Homo sapiens: one gene and its partners. The protein of the gene in region 3 purifies or fractionates together with the protein of the main gene of each other region. This does not show direct contact. Each region holds a gene or a part of one and is shown on either strand. Other genes may lie near its edges.

The links.
Region 1: the proteins of TBC1D1 (region 3) and PPFIBP2 purify together in Homo sapiens (co-immunoprecipitation; one large-scale study listed by IntAct). This does not show direct contact.
Region 2: the proteins of TBC1D1 (region 3) and KIF13B purify together in Homo sapiens (affinity purification with mass spectrometry, with the first as the bait; one large-scale study listed by BioGRID). This does not show direct contact.

What each region holds. Positions count from the first base shown.
Region 1 is NC_000011.10:7,639,392-7,643,042, forward strand, and holds part of PPFIBP2 (liprin-beta-2), read left to right. Parts: intron 1-340; coding exon 341-479; intron 480-1,641; coding exon of another isoform or gene 1,642-1,674; intron 1,675-2,087; coding exon 2,088-2,229; intron 2,230-2,906; coding exon 2,907-3,035; intron 3,036-3,651. UniProt on the Homo sapiens protein: May regulate the disassembly of focal adhesions. Did not bind receptor-like tyrosine phosphatases type 2A.
Region 2 is NC_000008.11:29,074,454-29,078,104, forward strand, and holds part of KIF13B (kinesin-like protein KIF13B), read right to left. Parts: intron 891-3,651; coding exon 828-890; intron 1-827. UniProt on the Homo sapiens protein: Involved in reorganization of the cortical cytoskeleton. Regulates axon formation by promoting the formation of extra axons. May be functionally important for the intracellular trafficking of MAGUKs and associated protein complexes.
Region 3 is NC_000004.12:38,016,506-38,020,156, forward strand, and holds part of TBC1D1 (TBC1 domain family member 1), read left to right. Parts: intron 1-888; coding exon of another isoform or gene 889-948; intron 949-1,848; coding exon 1,849-1,938; intron 1,939-3,651. UniProt on the Homo sapiens protein: May act as a GTPase-activating protein for Rab family protein(s). May play a role in the cell cycle and differentiation of various tissues.

The DNA of each region.
Region 1 (3,651 bases), on a different chromosome or scaffold from region 3:
AATTCACGGCTGTTAATTCATTGAGTCTCTGAGCACTAGGCCAGACAGCAAAGGCCGCTTTGCAAGACAGCTTCACTTCCTGTTAGAGTCAGTTTCAGTCAGCCCCAGATTTGCACTTGACTCTGTCCCTGTCTTACTGTGTGGCCTTGGGAAAGTTTCTTCCTTCCTTGGAACTCTGGTCCCCTTTCTCGGACTAGCTAAATAATCTTTGAGGGGTGTTCAAGTCACCATATGTGAAAAATGGCTCTTGCAAAACAGGGAGTTGTTCTGTATCCAAGGATTTCCTAACTGAGGCTGACAGTTAAGTCGGTATCTCTCTCTTTCTCTCACCTTCCAATAGGACAGCCCTTTCTTGGCGGAGCACAAATATCCCACTTTACCTGGGAAGCTTTCAGGAGCCACGCCCAATGGAGAGGCTGCCAAATCTCCTCCCACCATCTGCCAGCCTGACGCCACGGGGAGCAGCCTGCTGAGGCTGAGTGAGTGTCCAGCCCTGGTGCTGGTGGCCTCTGAGCAGTGTCCTTGGCACTTTCAATGATTGTATAAGATCCCTGCACCTACCACCACAATCCACAATTGGAGAATGGTGGGGTGGGTGGCTGGAACAAGTTGTACCTTGGGGTGGTCCCACCTCCCCAGAGGCTCCCCCTGGGCGAGCTGTTTTCTAAGGTCAGCACTCTACAGTCTCAGCAAACCAGGGTGTGTGTATCCCCTACTTCTTTTCGGCTGCAGCTTTTCACCCTTATTTCCTCTCTTCTTCTCTTCCTCCTCTCGAACTCTTTCCTGTCCTTCCTAGCATTGTTTTCCCTCCTCTCAGACACCCCCTTCTACCCTTCCTGCCCCTGGTGCTTCCTTCCTCTGTCATTCTGATCTTCTCTCTCCTGTCTCCACCTTCTTCTCTGCAGCTTCCCTATTCCCCGTAGGAGGGTATCATGCACTCCAAGTGGGAGCATTTCCTTAGGCAAATGAAGTCAGTGGCCAATGGGCAAGGGTGTCGGTCTGCAGGTATCCTTTCGGTGCGTAAGACCTGAAACCACAGAGGCTTTTGCTGCTTTTCATTCAAAATAAGCCATCTTTCCCCACCAGCAGCAAAAGATTCAATGGCCCCGGAAGGGAACATTCTGGTCCTGGCAGGGTTCTTCCTGAGGCTCCTCAGCCTCAGCTCTTCCCTGAGCTGGCCCATGCATTGGCCTAGTGAAGGCCAGCTCTGCCGTTGGCTGCAGGAACTTCAGATAAACCCTTGAATGAGTGTGTTCTAGTGACACTCAAACTGGACTCACTATGGCTTCAGATTGTTCTAGTCTGAGCTGAGTGAGCCCAGGCACCTGCACAAGAGCTGCCTGTGGCCTGGAGTATTCAGCCCCTGCTGCTGTCCCTTCCTTTCCCTGGGTGTGGACACCTCAGCCTGTCACAAAGGGGCCCCAGGAACACTTGGTCCCCTCACATGAAACCTCTTCTCAGTGTCAGTCACCACTCACCCCCTCCTTCTCCATGGGATTATTTTTCTTTCTGTTTGAGTTTTTCTCTCTTGCTCGATGACACTCTTTTGTTTATTTCTTTGCTTCCCCGTAACTCTGTTGGGCTGGACTTTGGCCTCTCTTGTTTCTTCATGTGGCTTCTCTGCTTCTTGGTTCACTGGAGATCGTGGCCGGAGTGTCAGTGCCCCCGTATTAGGTACTGTACCCATTCCAGGTGAGGTGGAGAGTGAGAATGCCTTTGTTTCCCTACCCTAACCCTCCCCTTCACCAGCACTCAGCCAGGGACCCACTACTGCCTGCGTTCCTGCATCTCCCTCTGAGGAAAAAGAAGCTGCTTGTTGGAATAATCCACAAGTACTTTGGACCCCAAATCCTTAAAATTAAAGACATTAGCTCACCTAGATTTGAAATATTGAGCACACTAATTTCTCAGCAAGGAAGCCTGGAGTCCCCACTAGTCTCTGGGATCTTGGTATGGAGTTCTGCCCTGAAGGCAGAACTGGGCAGATTCTCTGGACTCCCACTGAAGGGGAGGGCCCAGGCTTGGGGAAGAAGGGTTCCAGGGGTCACATCCTTACATTCACATTCATTGCCTTCTTCCAATCTCAGGAGACACAGAAAGTGGCTGGGACGACACTGCTGTGGTCAATGACCTCTCATCCACATCATCGGGCACTGAATCAGGTCCTCAGTCTCCTCTGACACCAGATGGTAAACGGAATCCCAAAGGCATTAAGAAGTTCTGGGGAAAGTAAGTTGGTGCCGTTGATCCTAATTATATTGCTTAGAATTTTTCTTTTTGATTGGGCAAAGAGTCTATGTAAGCCCCTGGTCCAATAGACACTGAAACAGCAGTCAAAACAGAGTGTTCATGTTCAAAGAGAAGAATCTGAGATATTTTCCAGGGCCAAGAGAAGGAGAAGTATGAAAGACACCCATTGAATATATCCAGTTGCCTTTCATGTCATGCATCCTAAGCACCCACCCATTCCACACACCCTGAACATAATCTCTGCAGCTTATATTACATTGGATCTGGCACAGACACAGATGAGACTGTATTCTCCCTTCTTAGGAGTCAGTCTGTTTTAAGAAATCTTTGAAAAACCTTTGAAAGCCAAGTACTTGCTGGCCCAACTGATCCACTTTGTGACATGAGGCAGAAACTGGGGCCTCCTACAAGGCATCAAACTTTGCTTTGACTTCTATGGCAAGTGACCAAATCCCAGAGGCAGGATCCGAATTGAGGCTTGAGTCTGGCCAAGGAGCTGCGACAGGTTGTGATCCTTGATCTCTGGGAAGGTACGGAGAAGCAGTGCTGCCGAGAGTCCCTGTGCTGGCCTGCATGGCCTTGCAAAAGAGGAAGCACAGTGACTGTAGGCTTTCTGACTATTCCATGACCGTCTCCATGGATTCTTCTCCATGCAGAATCCGAAGAACTCAGTCAGGAAATTTCTACACTGACACGCTGGGGATGGCAGAGTTTCGACGAGGTGGGCTCCGGGCAACCGCAGGGCCAAGACTCTCTAGGACCAGGGACTCCAAGGGACAGAAAAGGTAAGGCTTGACCCACTTTCCTTTGATCTCCCTGCTCTGAAAAAGAAGTATCTCCCTTCAAACCTGCATGGGTGAATCTTTACTCCTGTGTTTTGCGGAAACCCCTTTCCATATTCTCTTCCCCAGTCAAGCAGTCCCTACAGTACGTCATTTCCAGCACAATATCTCCTAAGTTCTGAGTTACTCAGCCAAGATCAGTACTCCTGGAGGTCTTCCACAGGATTGGAATGTGACATTTTATATCTAACCAAAAGGCAAAAAGTAAGCTGTAACTCTCTTCAGTTTAGTCACCTCAAGATTGCCATATACCAATGCAGAGTACAGGTAATTACTGGTTATGATATGTATCATTCAGATGTCCGTTCTCAGAAATAATATAGTCTAGATTCCAATTAAGGAAGAAAAGCATTTCCCTAAATGCATCATATTGTTTGCAGACCTGCATCCCCTGCGGAAGGGAGTCTTAGCTTATTTTGCACATGGATATGATACTGCACTTCCCTGGCTTGCCAAACAGGTTTCTAGTCTTACCAGGTCCTCCTCGTGCATGAGACCTGGGACCTTTCCAGATCCATTTATTCTTCGATGAGTATCCCCAGACTCCAGGAAGCTTGAA
Region 2 (3,651 bases), on a different chromosome or scaffold from region 3:
ACCCTTGCCACTGAAGAAGACATTTCTGGAGACTTCTGCAAAAGCCCAAGCTTGGAAAACCACCATGATGAGCTACAGAAGCTGCTGCCTTCACTGGCAAGGGGCTTGCTCTGACCATCCTGCTGACCAGGGACACTCAAACCTGCCTCAGAGAAGAGACCGGCACCATTCCCAGGGGAGGGGGCACCCCGATCCCGGCCACAGCAAATTCGTGAATGCCCAGTGTGCACTGGGGTAAAAAGGTCATTCAGATAGAAGTAAATTCACGGAGATCTGAATATTCTTTCTAATGATTGTGCCTCTGTTGCTGTTGTTTTAATAAAGAAAATTTTCCTAAGAAGATACAGCATTTCCTAAGAGAATGAAAGCGCAGTGGGAGAAAATAGATTTGCTATTCATAAGATTAGAAGTGCTGTTGATCTGTGGGAGATTATAAGAGACTATTTTCTCCACAGCTTAGCATTCGTCTTTTCACGCTGATATCATGAATCAGAATGAAATGTAAAACTGAGAATTAAGCAAACATTTAGAAGAAGGAGATTGTTCTGTTTATAGAAATCTCCTCTGCCTAGCTGTGGGCTATTAAGGCAGCAGACTACATTAGCAGTCAAGCACCTAAAAGTTTAGCAATCATATGATTAACAAGTTGAAAATAGAAAAGTATAACAAGGAAAATAGAGAGGGAGAAGGCAGTGACCTATATTATAACTAATTACCAAAACAGGAATGCTAACATCAAAAACTGTGGGTGTGGACTCAACAGTTTCGGCATCAGGGCCACCTGCTCGCTGTAGGTGGGGTGGCCACCCGTGACCCAACAGACTCACCTCCTCCATCCTGGTCACCCTGATGTCCGGGCTGGCTGACTGCACCATGATGCGGGGCACGGGCTGAGGAGGCAAGTGTGCAGGTCAGGGGTCGAGAGGACAGAACAGGGGTAGCAGAAAGGTTTCCGCTGCACAGGCTGGAGGGCCAGGACCTGCCCGAGGGGAATCGGCCCATCAGGTGTGCGAGTGTGAGGGGCTCCACACCCTCCAAGGAACAAGGGACCCAGCAAGGGGCTCCTCCCCCAGCCAGGGAAACAGGCCACATGCCAAGATCACCAACACACATGGTGCACTTACACACACGACGCTCTCTCCCTCCCTCCAATCACATATGCACATGTGAACCGAGGACTGGGCCTGTACAGACAAGCATTATGAGACAGGAAAGATACAGAAAGACTTCCGGCAGGAGGTGAAAGCCATGCCAGGCTCTGATGGCTGGGGAGAGGAAGGAGTGTAGTCACAGGAGGGGAGGAGGAAGGAGGCCAGGCTGGCTGGAGCACAAACCCAGAGCCCAAGATGGCAGGCACAGGTCTGCAGAAGGCCCTGGGCATCGGAAACTAACCCTACTCAGGAGAGGAAGGGGGTCCCCACTGAGTCCTGAGCAAAGCAAGAAGACAGCTGAAGGCCAGAGACACTGTCCGGGTGGGGACACAACATGACCGGAAGAATATTTAAAGTCCAAAGAGGCAGATCAGTAATGCAACTCCAGTGACAGAGCAGGGGGAGGAGGTAAGAGCCACAGGAAAGGGCCTGGTTACTTGTGGACACATGGGCCAGGGAACATTAAAGAGACAGAGTTAAGAATCATCAGAGCCAGGAAAAGGGAAGCCTCGGGGAGAGAAGGAACCAGAGCATCATTCTGTTGCTGCGGAGTGGCTGTGGGACACAGAAGCAGCCGAGCAGATGTGCTCATCCCAGAAGAAGCTGGGAACATGCCACTTCTGCCCCTCCCCCTCCCCCTACCCGACTGCAGGAACCAGGCCTGGCCTCCCATGCTGGGCTCTCATGAGGGCTCCATTCTGCCAGGACAGCCGCGGGTAGGGCTTCTTTCTTGTTGGGTCCACAGGGCACAGCTGGTGGCTGCTCGGTTACTGAACTTTAACTGCCCAGAGATGTGGACTCCACGTCTCCCACCTCCCTTCTCCCAGCCCTCGGCAGTCCTGGTGCTTTGGCTCTTGTGCGTCTGGGCACTTGAGGCCTCGATGGAGTCAGGCCTTCTAGACAGAGCCTGCAGGCGCGAGCCACACCGCCCAGGCCTTCCTTCCTACTGGGGAGCCTGGACTCCAGCTGTAGGGAGAAGAGTCCCGAAGAAGCCAGCCCGCTCAGCAGGGTGCTCACCATGTTTACAAGCATGGAATAGCCTCGCTTCACCTGAGGGCACCACTATGACCACTCGTGCCTTGGGGCTGCTTTTGGAAGAAAAGTATAAGAGGGAATTGATTCCACAGAAGGTAAGGGGGCACTGGCAGGATTTGAGAAAAGGTGCAGTGGAGAGGACTCGAGAGGAAACGCAGCGATCAGGCTTAAAGACCTGGAAGGACTGGAGCCAGATGTGGTGGTGCACACCTGCAGTCCCAGCTCCTCAGGAGGCTGAGGCAGGAGAATCACTTAAGCCCAGGAGTTGGAGGCTGCAGTGAGCTATGATCACACCACCACACTCCACCCTGGGCAACAAAGCAAGACCCTGTGTCAAAGAAGAAAAAAAGAAAATAAGGTGGAAGGACCAAGGAAATGAACAAAAGGAATGTGTACTTTACACTGCAACCACTAGGGAGTTCCTGGGGTGGTCTGAGGCCCAGGACAGCTAGGACCAGGGTGCATTAAAGATTATGTGAGCAGCCAATGGGACAGAATGAGGGAGGGTCCCCTGGTGGCAGTTAGGCCATTGCACATGACAAGGCCTGAAGAACAAGACCTTCAGCCTCCACCTCAATTCCTTGACCAGAACAGTCTCCCCTCTGCGCCCCTCCCAGCACTCAGCTCCTTCTGTCCCACTACTGCTCTCCACGGCCCCGCCTACCGCCATCTCCCAGAGAAGAAAGTGAGGCTCAAGCACGCGTCCCACACTGCCACGCAGTCCTCGCATGCCAGGGCTCGTATCTTCATTTTTCTGCCTATAGTATTTAACGTCCCCACAAATGGGAAGGTGTTCAAGGGTATATTTCATGACAAAAGCAGAAAAAACATTTCTCAAACTCCAAAATACTTGCATTCTTCACTACATCTTACCTAAAGTGGACAAGATTGGGGAACAACTGTTTCCACAAAGGTGAAGTTTATTCCCCTTAAAGCCTAAAAATGCAAATACCCCAAGGATGGGATGTTAAGCGCCTAACATGAAACCTTTTCTAAAATCACATGATTCCTGCCCTCTGAAATAGAACATGCAAACAAGTTACACTTTCCTTCAGGACCCAGTGTGATTAGAAAAACCCAGTAGATAGATGCTTATTAAATATTTGCTGAAATGGATTCAGGGACTCGACTGACTGCCACTTTGGTTCTCACTCTCCATGTAAAAAAGTTCAGCTCAACAGAGACTGCACCAGGTCCTACCATGCGGGGGGCGTGGCACCAGGTGCCTCAGGCAACATCAGCATCAGAGGCATGGGCTTTGCTCTCAACAGATGGGCAACCTGATTGGTGGGGAACACATAAGCAAATCACTAAAATCAAGGAAGGTGACAGTGGAGTGGAAGCTTCAAAAGCAGAGAGGAGGCCAGGCACGGTGGTTCACGCCTATAATCCCAGCAGTTTGGGAGGCCGCAGCAGGAGGATCACCTGAGGTCAGGAGTTTGGGACCAGCCTGGCCAACATGGTG
Region 3 (3,651 bases):
CCTCACTTCCTGCTTTTTTGCTTTATTTTTCTCCATGGCATTTTTACCATTTGACACAATTACAAATAAACAAGTAAAAGATTTTATGTCCCACATGCCCCCAAGAAGATAGGCTTCAAGAGGGCATGGATTTTCATTTCTCTGTTCACTGCTGTCGTTGGTAGTGCCTAGAGCACAGCTGTTGGGTGAGAAATAATTCCAGATGGCCGCACTGAAAACAAGGAAGGATGGTGCGTAGAGATGGGGCTGGGACTGGAGGCAGCCCCATGAAAGTTGTTTTCATCAGGCACAACTTTATGGGTCTTGGTCAGGGTTTTGTTTTTTATCCTGAAAGGAGTGGGCAGTCACTGCATGCTATAAAACACAGTGTGAAATATCTTTGGCTACAGAGCCAGGATACTTGGGGGAGGGCAAGAGTAGGATGGGGAGGGGAGTGAAGCTGTTGTAGTAGTCCAGGTGAGAGATAGTGGGGTTGTGGTAAGTGCAGTGGGAGTGGAAGGGACAGACATGCAGAAAGTCAAATTAATGGGATGTACAATCCTTTGGATGCCATGGGGAAGGAGAGGGATCTCAGGAGCCCCACCCAACTTTGGATTCTGACTTGCTCTTTACAACCCAGCCATAGCTAAGTAATAATGCCTTGGAGCCTCTCACCTTATGAGATTTTCAAAGGTTATTTTTAAAAATAAGTAAGGACTATCTTCATTATGTAGGTAAAGACAGTGACTTCTAAAGAGACTAAACATACTCCAAATAGATACTTATTCGTTGTTTACAAATAAGGAGGATATTGTGTTGGCTCCTACTCTAGAGAGAGACACAGTCTAGTTTAGAAAGATGTTGCATGTTAAAAATGAATTAGTTTTTCATCATCCTTGGTCTCCACAGAAGGACAAGAGTAAAAGGCTACCTGCCACTCTCTGCTGGCTGAAATACAGTTCAGAAACAGTAAGTGTGCAAAAACAATTCAGAATGCAAAGTCCTTGCCCCAAACAGAATGCACGTTTCTTGGGCCCCCTCATTGAGAGTATAATTCCCCTTGACTTACACCCCAGTTTCCAACAAGCTTGTGTATCTGATTTGTATTTTACATCAAAGCGTAAAGAGTTTAGAGGAGGAGATGGGTCTGGGAGTTAAGAATGGCAGCGTCAGGATGTGACCACTGACTTCTTGGTCCTGAGGAGAAACTAAAGCTGTAGAAACCAACACACACTGAAACCCAAGAAGCTTAGCGCTCCAGAGACGAGGAGTCTAAAAGGCAGCCTTTCACAGCCTGCAGGGGCGTGTGCACACAGAGTAGGTTGGGTATTGCAACACAGCAGTCTCCTATAATGCATGTCTATTAGCATGTCCCAAGGCAGTAAGAGGATTGTAATTGATGCTCATACTCTAACTTGAAAAGGTCCGGTCACTAGTGTATGTGAATGCCTCACATGTAATATGTACTAAACAAATGGTAGATTCTTTTAACAATAATTTAAAAAGACTTGTCAGTAAAAATCATTCAAAAGTATCTTGGAAGCTTTGAAAGAGTAGATTCTGTTTTCTGGAAGGTTCACTTATGCGGAGACCTCAGTTTTTAGGGGGATGTGTGGATCTTGAGGCCTATTGCTAACTTTTGGATATCTGGTTCTTTCATCTCAAGGAAGATGGCTGTCTTATCTAGGTGAAGGCACTAATAGATGTGTCTTATGACCTGAAATCCAGAGGATAAGAGGGGACCTTTGAAATGATTTCTACGATGATAGAGTCAGAATTTTATAGGAGCTTGTCCCTTTTATTCTTTATTTTCATAGGTCATGAAATGAGAAAGTTTGAAAAGCTAGATTTTTTTGTTTGTCTTTTAAGATTGGCCAGTCTGAAGTTTACCTCATCAGTCCTGACACCAAAAAAATAGCATTGGAGAAAAATTTTAAGGAGATATCCTTTTGCTCTCAGGTAAATGGAGATGGGTTTTTTTATTCAATTGCAATGGAATTTTTAAATGAATTTCTATAATATCTATCATGTAACAAATGCTAAAGGTTACAAGGTGTATGTTTTCTAAGTACTGTACTTGATTTGTGTTTCGCTTTTCTTCTTTGCTTTGGTATGTTAAGGTAAATTATGAATATAATTTTGAAATTAAGAAATTTGCTCTTAGCAACAGTAATGGACAAAATAGATCTACTTTTAATTTTCTCAGTTATTGGTAGTAATAATCCACAGTCATGACTTCCAGATGCACATGTGTGTGTCTTTGTGCATATTACACATATATATTTACACATTTCACACAAATATATCTTTTTATTAGATATATTTCTACTTTACAAAAATTTGTAACTTTTTTGGGTACCAATTGTCAGTATTCTCCCTTCAAATATAGATAGTGCTTATCTTTGACATATATATTTACACATTTCACACAAATATATCTTTTTATTAGATCTATTTCTACTTTACAAAAATTTATAACTTTTTTAGGTACCAATTGTCAGTATTCTCCCTTCAAATATAGATAGTGCTTATCTCAGAGTACAGTGTCTACTTGAAAACTTTTTTCTTGATAATCTTCCAGGTGTTTCATAGAGGGATTTTGGAAGAATCTATCAATTAAGATTAGCTGTGCCAGTTTTACTCAGGATCTTCCTAACAAATATGAGATCACTTAAGGTTATATTTGCTTTTTTTTTTAAACTCTGGATTTTTCATTTTCATAATTGATAAAATATGAAAATGTCAGTGTTGATTTATAATGTGATCTACTTAAATATTCAAAAGGGACTTTTCTGCAAAATGTGAAAATAAAGAATGTTCTTTACAGATTGAATAGGGAACCATTTACAAAGAAAAAGCTTTGCTAAATCATATTTCCTTAAGTGGTAGCCTTATGCTTAACTTGCTACTGGAGAAGATTAATTGAGATGGCAAAGCATGTTAATGATTGCTCATTTATTGGAAAATATTTGGCCTGAAAGTGAGATTACCCATAGAGTTTTTAATCCTGATTTGCTGCTATTTCTGTTGAAATATGAATGTTAAATGTTTACATTTTTGTGTGATAGCTTTATAATTTCCTAAAGAGTGTAGTTTACAAGTTTATATGATTACCTGAACATTAAGCTATCAGCACTCACATCTCTGCATGATGATGCTTTCAGAATACATTGATGTATTAATATTTATGGCAGACGTTTTATCTGTATTAAGGTGCCTCTGATAGCTGATGATTTTAAAACACATTTACATATTAATATTTATTAAAAATAGCTCTTATGATACCATGGTAGAGCCTTGGCCTAATATGTTTAAAAGCTCCTCTACTCTGTGTGCATGTAATTTTTGACTCTTTCTTTATTCCAGTTCACTTCAGTATTTACCTACTTATTTTAGGAATACAAATATATTTTAAATATTTTTTTAACCTTTGGGTGTGTATGTGCTTAGTTGTGTTTCTTCATGAATCTCTGGTCTGCCTTTGATTTTTTGAGTGGTTTTTATTCTTTAATACCTATGTCTCAAACAAAACAACAAACAAATACTAAAATGAGCACTAAAACTTGAATTTTCAGATCTTATTTTTCTTATTGTTGTGGGAGTAATCAAAGGAACATTCTAGTAAACCAACTTTATTTGAGATGTTTTTAGACTTTTTGAAATTTTAAAATA